3 separate regions of the Homo sapiens genome follow, and regions 1 and 3 are each linked to region 2. Evidence: fine-mapped expression QTL. A gene starts in region 2. Each other region holds a variant in brackets. All regions are shown on one strand. Distances are from middle to middle. Region 1 overlaps LOC124900647 (nascent polypeptide-associated complex subunit alpha, muscle-specific form-like). Region 2 holds the start of RNF212 (ring finger protein 212). Region 3 overlaps LOC124900647 (nascent polypeptide-associated complex subunit alpha, muscle-specific form-like).

Region 1 (4,224 bases), 21 kb before region 2:
ATTGACTTGTGGAGTTTATAACACATGTAGCAGTAAAATATACGACAACAATAGCACAAAGGAGGAAGGCAGGTAAACGCAGTTAAACAGCTGAAAGATTCTTGCAATGTTCAGCAAGTAGTAAATACGCTAATTTAAGGAAGAAGGTATCGCAACAAGGATGCATATTATTACCAAGGTAATCAATAAAAGAATACTGTACTAAAAGAATGCATAACTAATATGCTAATAGAGAAAAATGGAAAAAAAAAACTTGATTAATCCAAAGAACGGCAAGAAAGGAATAAAGGAACAAGGAACAAATAGGACAAATGAAAAACAAATAGCAATATGGTAGACTTAAACCTAAATATATTTTACACTATATGAAGTGCAAATGGGCAAAACACTCCAATTAAAAGACCAAGATTGTCAGACTAGATTAAAAAAACAAAAAATAAAGAACAGCTATTTCCAAAAGAAAACTTTAAATATCAGAAAGACTGAAAGTAAAAGAATAGAAAAAGACATACCACGCAAATAAGAACAAAAAGATAGCATAAAATAGACTTTAAGAAAATAAATATTACTGGAGTTACAGGGGTACACAAATCAATGTTGCTTTTAATAACAAAAAGATGTTTAGGGGGTGTTTCCTACTCAGCTGTTATGAACCTTATTTAGAAGAATGAGGCCAGGCACAGTGGCTCACGCCTATAATCCCAGCATTTTGGGATGCCGAGGTGGGTGGATCACCTGAGGTCAGGAGTTTGAGACCAGCCTGGCCATCATGGTGAAACTCCCATCTCTACTAAAAATGCAAAAATTAGCCAGGCATGGTGGTGGGCAACTGTAATCCCAGCTACTCAGGAGGCTGAGGTGGGAGAATTGCTTGAACCTAGGAGGTGGAGGCTGCAGTGAGCTGAGATGGTGCCACTGCACTCCAGCCTGAGCAACAGAGCGAGACTCTGTCTAAACAAACAAACAAACAAACAAACAAAAAACAAGAAAAAGAAAGTAAGTTCAAGAGAGATAGAGAGATGACCTTAGAGCCAGTCATCAAAATCTACCTAAAAGTTTGTTTTTTCTCATTAGGACTAAAAATAGTCTGCAAGAGATTGATATTCCATCTTCCCCAAGTGGAGGTAGCCGAGACTACTTAGGATAGAAAACAGGCTTTGTCGACAAAAACACAAGCTATGACATCCACCTTAATTGCCTAATAGCTGGGTGACTGAGTCTGTTTCCTTCTCTGTAAACTGAAGATAACATGAGCCTTGGAGCAGCAGAGCACTTGGCACACCCTTGACATGTTGCAGGTGCTCTGTCGGTGTGGGTTCCCACCCTCTCTTCCCCTTGGCCTCTGGGTAGCTTAAGACTACTAGAGACGCAGGTGTGGCTCTGACTCTGGCTCAAAGCTCTCTCTGAAAGAAAGAGAAGCTGCTTCAGAAGCAGAGAAAGGCCTGCATTCCCCAACTGGACACTGAGAGGGGGAAGATACAGGGCTTGCGCATCTGCCAACGGTGCCAGCTGACAAACCTGGGGTAAGAAATCCTTGCCCTGTAAACTTACTTGGAAATTCCTAAGCCAAATATATTCTGTATTTTTTATCTTGTTTCTCTTAGTCCTTCTTATTAATGTCCCTTAACAATAAATTCAATTGTCTTGAATTAAAAAAAAACGGATAAAGCAACTTTGATGGTAAATTTAAGAGGTAGAGATGAGAGGAACAGGGAGGGAAGACGCTGGTGGTGGGTAACTGTGTACGTTCTTCCCACCTGCCTAGTGAGTTTCAGTTTTTTTGTTTTTGTTTTTTTATTCTTTTGAGACGGAGTCTCGCTCTGTCACCCAGGCTAAAGTGCAGTGGTGCAATCTTGGCTCACTGCAGCCTCCCCCTCCCGGGTTCAAGCAATTCTTCTGCCTCAGCCTCCCTAGTAGCTGGGATTACAGGCATGTACCACCATGCTCAGCTAATTTTTGTATTTTTTTAGAGACAGGGTTTCACCATGTTGGCCAGGCTAGTCTCAAACTCCTGACCTCAGGTGATCTGCCCACCTTGGCCTCCCAAAGTGCTGGGATTACAGGCGTGAGACACCGTGTCTGGCCAAGTTTTAGTTTTAAAGCCTTTAAAGCCACTTGCTTTCTAGTCCTTGGTGCACTTTAAAAAAAAAAATGTGTTAGTCCCTTATAAAAAGCAGGGACTGTTAAAAAGGGAGAATCACCATGAAGCACAGTGATCATAATGCAGCAGACTGTTCATAAAATGTTTACAATTCAAAACTAATCAGCGAAAACATGTGCTCCTGGATGCTCCCTTTCAAAGGGTCTCCTGATCTCAAGCATTCTGCAAAACACCCGTAGTTTTGTCTATTTTTCAAAGTACAAGTCTTAGCGACTAGACAGGGAAGACGAGGGC[G/A]AGTTCAATGGGGGTCATCATCCATCATTCCACTGGGGCAAACAGACCGCACTCCTGTCTTCACGGGAGGCCTCACCGCCTCTCTGGATTGTCTTGGGTTGGGTGCTCCACAAAGCAGACCCTGAGCCAAGGATTCAAGTGCAAGTGATTTGTTAAGGAAATGCTCCCAGGAGAAGGGAGAGGAAGAGGCCAAGCAAGGGCATTATTTCAGGTTAACCCCAGACTCATCCCAAGCCCTGGAGGAGCCCAGGAGCATGAGATAACTACAGATCCAGCAATTCTGCTCCTAGATCCATACTCAGAACAACTAAAAGCCGGGACTGAGATACTTATGTATCAATGCTCACAGCAGCCAGAAAGTGTGCATCAACAAATGCATGGATAAACAAATGTGGTCCATCCATACAATGGAATATCATTCGGCCATAAAATGAAGGAAATTCTGTTACATGCCACAACACAGATGAACCTTGGAAATATTATGGTAAGTGAAATAAGCCAGACACAAAAAGAGAAATACCGTATGATACTACATGTAAGGGACCTAGAGGAGTCAAATCCATAGAGCCACATAGAGACTCTTGGGAGTCAGGGGGATGGGAGTTATTGCTTAAGTGGGTAGACTTTCTGCTCAGGAAGATGAGAACATTCTGGAAATGGATGGTAGTGATGGTTACACAACAACGTGGCTATACTTAATGTCACTGAATTGTATACTTAAAATGGTTAAAATGGTAAATTTTCTGTTACGTATATTTTACCACACTTTTTAAAAACATTTTTTAAAAATCTGGGTAAGGGCCAGATGCGGTGGCTCACGCCTGTAATCCCAGGACTTTGGGAGGCTGAGGTGGGCAGATCACGAGGTCAGGAGATTGAGACCATCCTGGTTAACATGGTGAAACCCTGTCTCTAAAAATACAAAGAAAAATTAGCCGGGCGTGGTGGTGGGCGCCTGTAGTACCAGCTACTCAGGAGGCTGAGGCAAGAGAATGGCGTGAACCTGGGAGGCGGAGCTTGCAGTGAGCCGAGATTGCGCCACTGCACTCCAACCTGGGTGACAGAGCAAGACGCCGTCTCAAAAAACAGTAATAAAATAAAATCTGGATAAGATATGCCACAGCTTGTTCCACCTCCAGGCAAAGGAGCCGGGCATTTGTACTCACATCCCATTCGTTGGCACTGGCTCAGGCTGAGGAGGCACAGACCTCAACTCAGGCTCTTCCTGTCCTCTGTGCAGGGTATGGCTCCAGCACCCAAGGCCTCCTTTAAGGCCACAAGCTGCAGTCAAGCATGCCAAAGCCAGGGGTGGCTAAGAGAGCAGGAAGGGACCTTACGGGCAAGGGGTCATCAGCAGTGCCCACTACAGCCCTGTGGGCCCAAGTCACGGCAACTGTCTTCTCTGTGGCCAAGGCAAAGTGCTCTCACCCCAGGAGTGTTGCTGATACCTGGCCTTACCACAGGCCGTTTGCTAATACTCATGGTGTCTAAAGATGCTGACTTGGGGGAAGTGTCTGCCCTTTCAATCGTTTCTCTTTGGTGATGAAAAATGACACACATCTAAGAATAAATGTAAGGTAAATGTGCATAATGTCTACATTGAAAACAACCAACCAGTCACAGAGGGCTATCCCGTATTCACAGGATAGAAAAATGGGCAGGAGATTAAGAGGCTTCACACGAGAGGAGACCTGAATGGCCAGGAAGTGGATGAGAAGGTGCTTGAGTTTGTTAATCATCAGGAAAAACATAAAGCAAAGCCCACTGGGATGTGACTACACACTCACCAAATGCCAAAATGAACAAAACAGAAAATAAGCATACACGTG
Region 2 (4,224 bases):
GAATTTCAGTTCATTCATCTTTTTATGCCCTGTGCCTAACGAAGTCCCCAGTAGCACAGGGTGTGAGCTTGCAGAATGAATAAATGCTTCCAAATGCATCCCATGTATTTGTAGAGGCTCACGTATGCTCACTTTCCAAATCACAATTTTATTCTTATGACATTAGGTGCTTTTTGAGTCACTACACTAAGTGGATATTGGTCAGATATGGGCTTAAATCTCAACTACCTGTCAGTAATCTGTGTCATCTCTAAGCTTCAGTTTCCTTAACAGGAAGATAAGGACAGGTGTGACAAGCAAATAAGGCATGCAAGTGCTTGGCCTAATGCCTGGCATAAAGGCTGGACTCAAATGATGAAATCTACCACTATTGGGTAATATTCGCTTTGCCTGATGGTAGCAAATAAAATATACGAATAGGTCAAATTCCTGATATTTTACACCAAAATACAAAACCATCTTTTATAAGGTTGATTTTTACTCTCTTATACTTGGCTAAGCAACAGATTCTGGTTTAGAAAAGCAGACTGCACGGATACGTTGGTGTAAGATATTAATTGGGTAATATTAAATACCTTGAATGCCCACAACAACCCTCCCCTCAAAATCGTGAGTTAAGTACTTTATGACACTAAACCTACTTCTTTTCCGCATAGGACCGTGAAGAAAATTTTCGAACGACCAGTGAAGATACAAATAGCAATGTTTTATGGTGGGCTTTTGCACAAATATTAATCTTTATCTCAGTCGGAATTTTCCAAATGAAGTACCTGAAAGACTTCTTTATAGCTAAGAAGATTGTTTAAAATATTATCAATAAGGACAAATAATCTGCATAATGTTTGAGTTAATAAATCAAAATACCTGCATATATGTGTATTATTTTTATGATTTCAAAGATACCAGAGATTGAGATTAACGTTATATCATTATAACATTGAGAGAATGCTTTTATAATGCAGCTTCTGAATTTGATAGATTAGGCACCTCATCCTATTCTTAAACTTATTTTTGAGACTGAGTCTCGCTCTGCTGCACAGGTGCCGTCAGGCTCACCACAGGCTCGATCTCCAGGGCCCAAGCAATCCTCCCACCTCAGCCTCCCGAGTAGCTGGGACCCCAGGGGCCCACCACCACACCCAGCTAATTTTTGTATTTTTTGTAGAGACGGGGTTTTGCCACGTTGCTGGTCTTGCTATTTTAAACTTGGTAGAGATCAGCACTGTCTAACAGAAATAAAAGTGGGCTACATACATAATTCTAATTTGCTGTTGTTGTTGTTGAGACGAAGTCTCACTCTGTTGCCCAGGCTGGAGTGCAGTGGTGTGATTTCGGCTCACTGCAACCTCCGCCTCGTTCAAGCGATTCTCCTGCCTCAGCCTCCGGAGTAGCTGGGATTACAGGCGTGAGCTACCGCACCCAGCCCATACGTAATTCTAAGTTTTCTAGTCTCCACATTGAAAAGGATTTTTTGAAAGGGTAAAATCAACGCTACTGATATATATTTAACCTAATATATCAAAAATATCATGTTAACATGTAATCAATATAAAATTACTAAGAAGGTTTTCATACGAGGCCCTGGAAACAGCTGTATTTTACTCACATCTTTCGGGGCGCAGGGGTCACTTGGCCCGTAGCTACCGGGAGCGCTCACCCTGCGCTCTCCCGGCACAAGCACTTGCCTGAGCCTCTCGATCCGAGCTTTGCAGCGTCCCAGCGGGTGGAAACTCTCAAAACCACGCAGAGGACAATTTTATAAAAAGTCACTTCCCCATGCTGGAACCTGGAAGCAGCAGAGGTCCTTCCCGAGCTACGCCTTCCGTTTCAGAGGGAAGCAGGCTCAGGCCTCCCGTGCTGAGGTCTCTGCGCCAGCGGCCACCTGGACACTAGTCCCAAAGCGTGCAGCGCGGCCTGGCCCCCACCCCCAACTGCCCCCCCCACCCCCACCGCCTCATCACACCCCACCCCCACCGCCTCACGCCCCCACACCCACCCCAACTCCCACATCCCCACTCCCGCTCCCACCCCAACTCCCACACCCACTTATCCCTCCCTCCCTCCTATCCCGCTCCCCGGGCCCCCAGGGCCCCCACGCCCACTCTCCCCTACTCCTCCCCTGCCTCGCCCAGCGCACTACCCTGGCCGCCCTGGCCTCCGGCCCAGCTCCCGGCCCTCAAGGTGGGCCTGGCCCGCATCCCCCGCCCTCGGCGCTCCCCCTCCCCCTCCCCCACTGCTGTCGCGCCGCGACGCCTCCTCAGCGCAGCCGCCATTCCCCGCGCCCGCCACCCAGGCCCGGCTTCCACAAAACACCTGAGGACCGCCAAGACAGGGGCGGGACGTTGGTGCTCGCGGTGCGTTCCTCCGCCTACTCCAGCCCAAACGACCTGGGAGACGAGTCACACGCGCCCTCCCAGGTGCTGCGGGAGAACCCGCGAGGTTGGCGGGAGGGCGCGAGCTCCAGTGCGCGGGCGCAGGGCTGCCGTCGACTTTGCGCAGGCGCAGAGCTGCCCGCCTTCGGGCCCTGCGCGGGGAGGCTGGTCCCAACCTTGCGTGGGCTTCGCGTGGGCCCGGCCTCGCCGCTGCGGTCGCCCGCCTGGCATGGCCAACTGGGTGTTCTGTAATCGCTGCTTCCAGCCGCCCCACAGGACGTCGTGCTTCAGCCTCACCAACTGCGGGCACGTGTACTGCGACGCCTGCCTCGGCAAAGGTCAGGGCTTCCCGAACGCAGGCTGGAGAGGGGAGGGGAGCGGCAAGGGGGTCAGGGAACTCCGGGGGATGGGGGACTTGGGTGGGAGGGCCATGGGGGCACGTGGGGGGCTGCGGAGGAGAGAGGGCGCGTGGAGAAGGGGGAGGGGGCAGGGGGAGGGGGATGCCAGGGGAGAGGCCGCGAGGAGCAGGGGAACTCTGAGGGGAGGGGGACCTGGGGTGGAGGGGCCGCGGGGGCGCGTGGGGGGCCGAGGGGGAGAAACGGCGCATGGAGCGGGGGGGGCATGGGGGGGTGAGAGGCCGCGGAGGTAGGGGTATTCGGAGGAGGGGCCACCGGGGAGTGGGGGCCGCGGGCGTGATGAGGGGCCCGTGGGGAGAGGGGGACACTGGAGAAGCGGTGGGGAGGGAGCGGGGGAGTGAGGGGCTGCGGGAGGGTGGGGAAAGAGGGGACGCCGGAGGTGGTGGGGGGCTGCAGGGAGGAAGGGGACGCCAGAGGAGGGGGGCAAGGTGGGGGATGTGGGGGGTCAAGGCTTGGGGGGGAAGGGGGATACCGAGGAGATGGGGGGAGGGGAGACGCCAGGGGAGGAGGGCGTGGGGGAGGGTCCGCAGGCAGGAAGGGGCCGTGGAGGGGAGGGGCCGCCGGGGGGAGCGGGATGCAAGATGAGGGGGACACAGGGGTCGGGCCACGAGTCCTGTCAGTCGGGGGCTCTGGCTTGCAGGCTGCGGGTCCGCCTGGAGGACCTGGGGGAGAAGCGGGCAGGCGGCAACCTTAACGCCAGTGGAGGACTCTGGCCCTATTCCATGGGCAGCGCGGGGCCCTGGTGTCAAGTGGACAGTCGCATTGTCAGGGAGGCGTTTTTCTTTCTGTGAAAATTTTGTGTTGAACTGATGTTTATGCAAGAACAAAAGCAAAAACACAGTGAGCTTTTACCAAGCGAACTTCCCCGTGAAAGCAGCCAGCTGGGTGCCGGTGGCTCACAGCCCTCCAGCCCCAGGGGACGCCAGCTGTGCTGACCTCCATCCTCGGAGTTGGCCTTAGACCCATGGAGCCTTAGTGAATGCAGCCCTACAACCAGCCCTACAGCAAAGCCGCTTTCTGTGGCTCCCCATCTTTCTTCCTTTTTCTCCCTTCCTTCTCTTTGCCTCTTTCAAGGCAGAGCTCAGCTTTGTCGCCCAGGCTGGAGTTCGGTGGCGGGATCTCGGTTTACTGCAGCCTCCGCCTCCCAGGCTCAAGTGATTCTCCTACCTCAGCCTCCAGGGTAGCGGGGCTACAGGCATGTGCAGCCACGCACCCCTGATTTTTTTAATTTTTCACAGAGATGGGGTCCCTTTGTTGCCCAGGATGGTCTCCAATTCCTGTCCTCTAACAATCACCGGCCTTGGCCTCCCGAAATGTGGGATTAGCAAAGTTTATCATTGTATTTGTATGTAACTGTAGTTCATCTACTTTCATTGTTGTGTGGTGTTCCATTGTATGGATACACCCCAAGTTACTCATCGTTTCCACTGTCCATG
Region 3 (4,224 bases), 72 kb before region 2:
GAGAATTTAGGCACACCATTTGCTATTTGTTTTCCATATCTTAGGTTTTTTTTGTTCCTCTGTTTCCATATGGCCTTCTTTGGTGTTAAATAGATATTTCCTAGTGTCTCATTTCAACATATTTGTCATTTCTTTTTTTTTTTTTTTTTTTTTTTTGAGACGGAGTCTTGCTCTGTTGCCCAGGCAGTGGTGTGATCTTGGCTCACTGCAACCTCCTCCTCCCAGTTTCAAGCAATTTTCCTGCCTCAGCCTCCTGAGTAGCTGGGATTACAGGCACCCGCCACCACGCCTGGCTAATTTTTTTTTTTTTGTATTTTTTAGTAGAGACGGTGTTTCATCGTGTTGGCCAGGCTTGTCTTAAATTCCTGACCTCAGGAGATCCACTAGCCTTGGCCTCCCAAAGTGCTGGGATTATAGGCGTGTGTTGCTGTGCCTGGCCTGTTATGTGTATTTTATTACAATAAAAAATTGGGGAAAACATTTTCAAAGGGCAGTGTAAAAATAAATAGTTTATGTGTGTAGCTCTTTTTTCTCCTACCTGATTTAAAAGACAACTGCAGAGAGTGATGATTAGACATCTGTGCTGGTAGTCAAATGATGTGTAAACATTTAAATTATATGACAGTGATAGCACAGAGGAGGAGGAGGGAACAGAGCTATATATGCGCAAAGTTTTTGTATACCATTGACATTAAATTATAATTAATCTGAGATCAGTTGTTATAAATTAAGATATTAATTGTAATCCCTAGGGCATCTGCTAAAAAGACACCTTAAAAGGTATAGTAAAAGAAATGACAGAGCAAGACTTTGCCTCAAAAAAAAGATACATATAACATAAAATTTACCATCTTAGCCATTTTAAAGTGTACAGTTGAGTGGCATTAAAAACATTCATCATGTATAAACGTCACCCCATCCATCTCCATAACACTTCATCTTGTGAAACTGAAACTGTGCACTCATTAAACAACAACTCCCCATTTCTGCTCCCCCCAGCTTCTGGCAACCACCAATCTGCTGTCTGTCTCTCTGAATGTGACTATTCTAAGTACCTCATCTAAGTGGAATGACACAATCTTTGTGTTTTGTGACTGGCTTATTTTACTTAGCATAATGTCCTCAAGGGTGATCCATATTATAGCATATGTCCTTCCTTTGTAAGGTGAAATTTCCTTTCTTTCTAAGGCTAAATAATATTCTGCTTATCTGTTTGTTCATTGGTAGGCACTTGAACTGATTTTGCATTTTAGCTGTTGTGAATAACGCTGCTATGAACTTGAGTATACAAATATATTTTCAAGACCCTGATTTCCATTATTTTGGGTATATACCCACAGTTGCAATGTGGGATCATACAGTCATTCTATTTCTAATTTTTTGAGGAACTCTTATCGTGTTTTTCATAGGAACTGTGTCATTTTATATTCCCATCAATAGTTCTCCAGGGTTCCAGATTCTCCACATCCTTGCCAATACTTGTTATTTTGGGGTTTTTTTGATAGTAGTCATCTTAATGGGTGTGAGGTGATGTCCTATTATAGTTTTAATTTGCATTTCCTCAGTAATAAATGATGTTGGGAATCTCTTCATTTGCTTATTGACCATTTGTAGATCATCTTTGGAGAGATGTCTATTCATGTCCTCTGCCCATTTTTAAATTGAGTTTTTTGTCTTAGAGTTTTAGGAGTTCTCTATATATTCTGGATATTAGTGCCTTATCAGATAAATGATTTGTAAATATTTTCTCCCATCAGCTGGGTGCAGTGGCTCACACCTGTAATCCCAGCACTTTGGGAGGCCGAGGTGGGTGGATCACCTGAGCTCAGGAGTTTGAGACCAGCCTGGGCAACACAGTGAAACCCCGTCTCTACTAAAATACAAAAAATTAGCCGGGCACGGCAGCATGCGCCTGCAATCCCAGCTACTTGGGAGGTTGAGACAGGAGAATTGCTGGAACCCGAGAGGCAGAAGTTGCAGTGAGCCAAGATTGCACCACTGCACCCCAGCCTGGGTGACAGAGGGAGACTCCATCTCAAAAAAAAAAAAAACATTTTCTCCCATCTTTTGAGTTGCCCCTTTACTCTGTTGATGTTGCCTTTTTTTTTTTTTTTTGAGACGGAGTCTCGCTCTGTCACCCAAGCTGGAGTATAGTGGCCCGATCTCAGCTCACTGCAAGC[T/C]CCGCCTCCCAGGTTCACACCATTCTCCTGCCTCAGCCTCCTGAGTAGCTGGGACTACAGGCGCCCACCACCACGCCCGGCTAATTTTTTGTATTTTTAGTAGAGATGGGGTTTCACCGTGTTAGCCAGGATGGTCTCGATCTCCTGACCTCGTGATCCGCCCGCCTCGGCCTCCCAAAGTGCTGGGATTACAGGCGTGAGCCACCACGCCCGGCCAGATGTTGCCTTTTGATACACAAATATTCTAATTTTCATGACGTCCACTTTGTCTATTTTCTTCTTTTGTTGCCCATGTTTTTGGTGTCATATCCAATAAATCATTGTAAAATCTGAAGTTGTACAGCTTTGTCTTATGTTTTCTTTTAAGAAGTTTATAGTTTTAGGTATTACATTTAGGTCTTTAATCAGTTTTGAGTTAATTTTTGCATACAGTGTCAGGCAAAAGGTCCAACTTCATTCTTTTTTTTTTTGGAGATGGAGTCTCACTCTGCTGCCGAGGCTGGAGTGCAGTGACGCGATCTCAGCTCACTGCAATGTCCGCCTCCCAGGTTCAAGAAATTCTCCTGCCTCAGCCTCCCAAGTGGCTGGGATTACAGGCATGTGCTACCATGCCTGGCTAATTTTTGTATTTTTAATAGAGACGGGGTTTCACCATGTTGGCCAGGCTGGTGTGGAACTCCCGACCTCAGGTGATCCGCTCGCCTCAGCCTCCCAAAGTGCTGGGATCACAGGCTTGACCAACTTCATTCTTTTGCATGTGGATGTCCAGGTTTTCCAACACCATTTGTCAAAAAGACTATTCTGGCCGGGCATGGTGGATTATGCCTGTAATCCCAGCACTTTGGGAGGCCGAGGTGGGCAGATCACTTGAGGTAAGGAGTTCAAGACCAGCCTGGCCAATGTGGCAAAACCCAGTCTGTATTAAAAATACAAAAAAGAAATTAGCCAGGGGTGGTGGTGCACATCTGTAATCCCAACTAGTCGGGTGGCTAAAGGAGAATTGCTTGAACCCAGGAGACGGAGGCTGCAGTGAGCCGAGATTGTGCCACTGCACTCCAGCCTGAGCAACAGAGTGAGATTGTGTCAAAAGAAAAAGAAAAAAGACTATAAGACTATTATTTCTCCCATTGAATGGTCTTGGCACTTTTGTCAAAAATCATCTGGCCATATATGTGAGAGTTTATTTCTGGCATAAAGATAGAGCATAGCTTATTGCTTATTGTATTCTTTTTTTTTTTTTTTGAGACAGAGTCTTGCACTGTCGCCCAAGCTGGAGTGCAGTGGCAAGATCTCGGCTCACTGCAACCTCCGCTTCCTGGGTTCAAGTGATTCTCCTGCCTCAGCCTCCCAAGTAGCTGGGATTACTGGCACACACTATGACACCCGGCTAATTTTTTAAATTTTTGTTTAGTAGAGACGGGTTTCACTATGTTGACCAGACTGGTCATGAACTCCTGACCTCGTGATCTGCCTGCCTCAGCCTCCCAAAGTGTTGGGATTACAGGCATGAGCCACCGTGCCTGGCCAGCTTATTGTATTCTTGATTACTGGAACCTTGTAGTAAATTTACTAGATTATTAGATTTTGATTACTACAGCTTTGTAGGAGATTTTGAAATCAGGAAGTGTGAGTCCCCCAGCTTTGTTCTTCTTTTAAAGATTATTTTGGCTACTTGCGGTCCCTTCAGAGCCCATGTGAATTTTAGAGTGGTTTTTTCTGCTGCTCTCTTTCGGTTTTGGTTTGCTTGGAATCCCTTTTTTCACCCTTTCCCTTTCAGTGTACTTGTGTCTTTGAATTTAAATCAAGATTTTTGTAGACAGCATTGAGCTGAATTATGTGTGTGTATTCATTCTGCCAATCTCTGTCTTTTGAGTAGAGAGTTTAATTCATTTTCATTTAAAGTAATTACTGGCCAGTTGCAGTGGCTCATGCCTGCAACCCCAGCACTTTGGGAGACTGAGGTGGGTGAATCACTTGAGCTCAGGAGTTTGAAACCAGCCTGGGCAACATGGTGAAACCTGGTCTCTACGAAAAATTAGCTGGG

Evidence for each region. PIP is the estimated chance that this variant, and not a neighbour inherited with it, causes the effect. A credible set is the group of variants that fine-mapping cannot tell apart.
Region 1: its variant is the best candidate, but not a certain one, in a credible set for the expression of RNF212 in esophagus muscle (GTEx, PIP 0.76).
Region 3: its variant is the best candidate, but not a certain one, in a credible set for the expression of RNF212 in subcutaneous fat (GTEx, PIP 0.84).

Annotation. Positions count from the first base shown.
Region 1 is chr4:1,133,309-1,137,532 of GRCh38, reverse strand. The region is part of intron 1 of LOC124900647 (nascent polypeptide-associated complex subunit alpha, muscle-specific form-like); the gene reads right to left. Among named protein-coding and RNA genes, the nearest start is that of RNF212, 22 kb to the right of the region's middle. The variant G/A (reference allele first, on the strand shown) is at 2,396.
Region 2 is chr4:1,111,842-1,116,065 of GRCh38, reverse strand. It overlaps RNF212 (ring finger protein 212), which reads left to right and starts at 2,502. Exons shown (of 10, transcript NM_001131034.4): 1 at 2,502-2,710. The coding sequence starts at 2,602. It overlaps LOC124900647 (nascent polypeptide-associated complex subunit alpha, muscle-specific form-like), which reads right to left and starts at 2,427. Exons shown (of 3, transcript XM_047416477.1): 1 at 2,314-2,427. LOC105374344 (a long non-coding RNA gene) reads right to left here and starts at 2,427. Exons shown (of 3, transcript NR_134676.1): 1 at 2,314-2,427. It also overlaps the pseudogene TMED11P.
Region 3 is chr4:1,184,135-1,188,358 of GRCh38, reverse strand. The region is part of intron 1 of LOC124900647 (nascent polypeptide-associated complex subunit alpha, muscle-specific form-like); the gene reads right to left. It also overlaps a transcript of SPON2 not described here. Among named protein-coding and RNA genes, the nearest start is that of SPON2, 14 kb to the right of the region's middle. The variant T/C (reference allele first, on the strand shown) is at 2,181.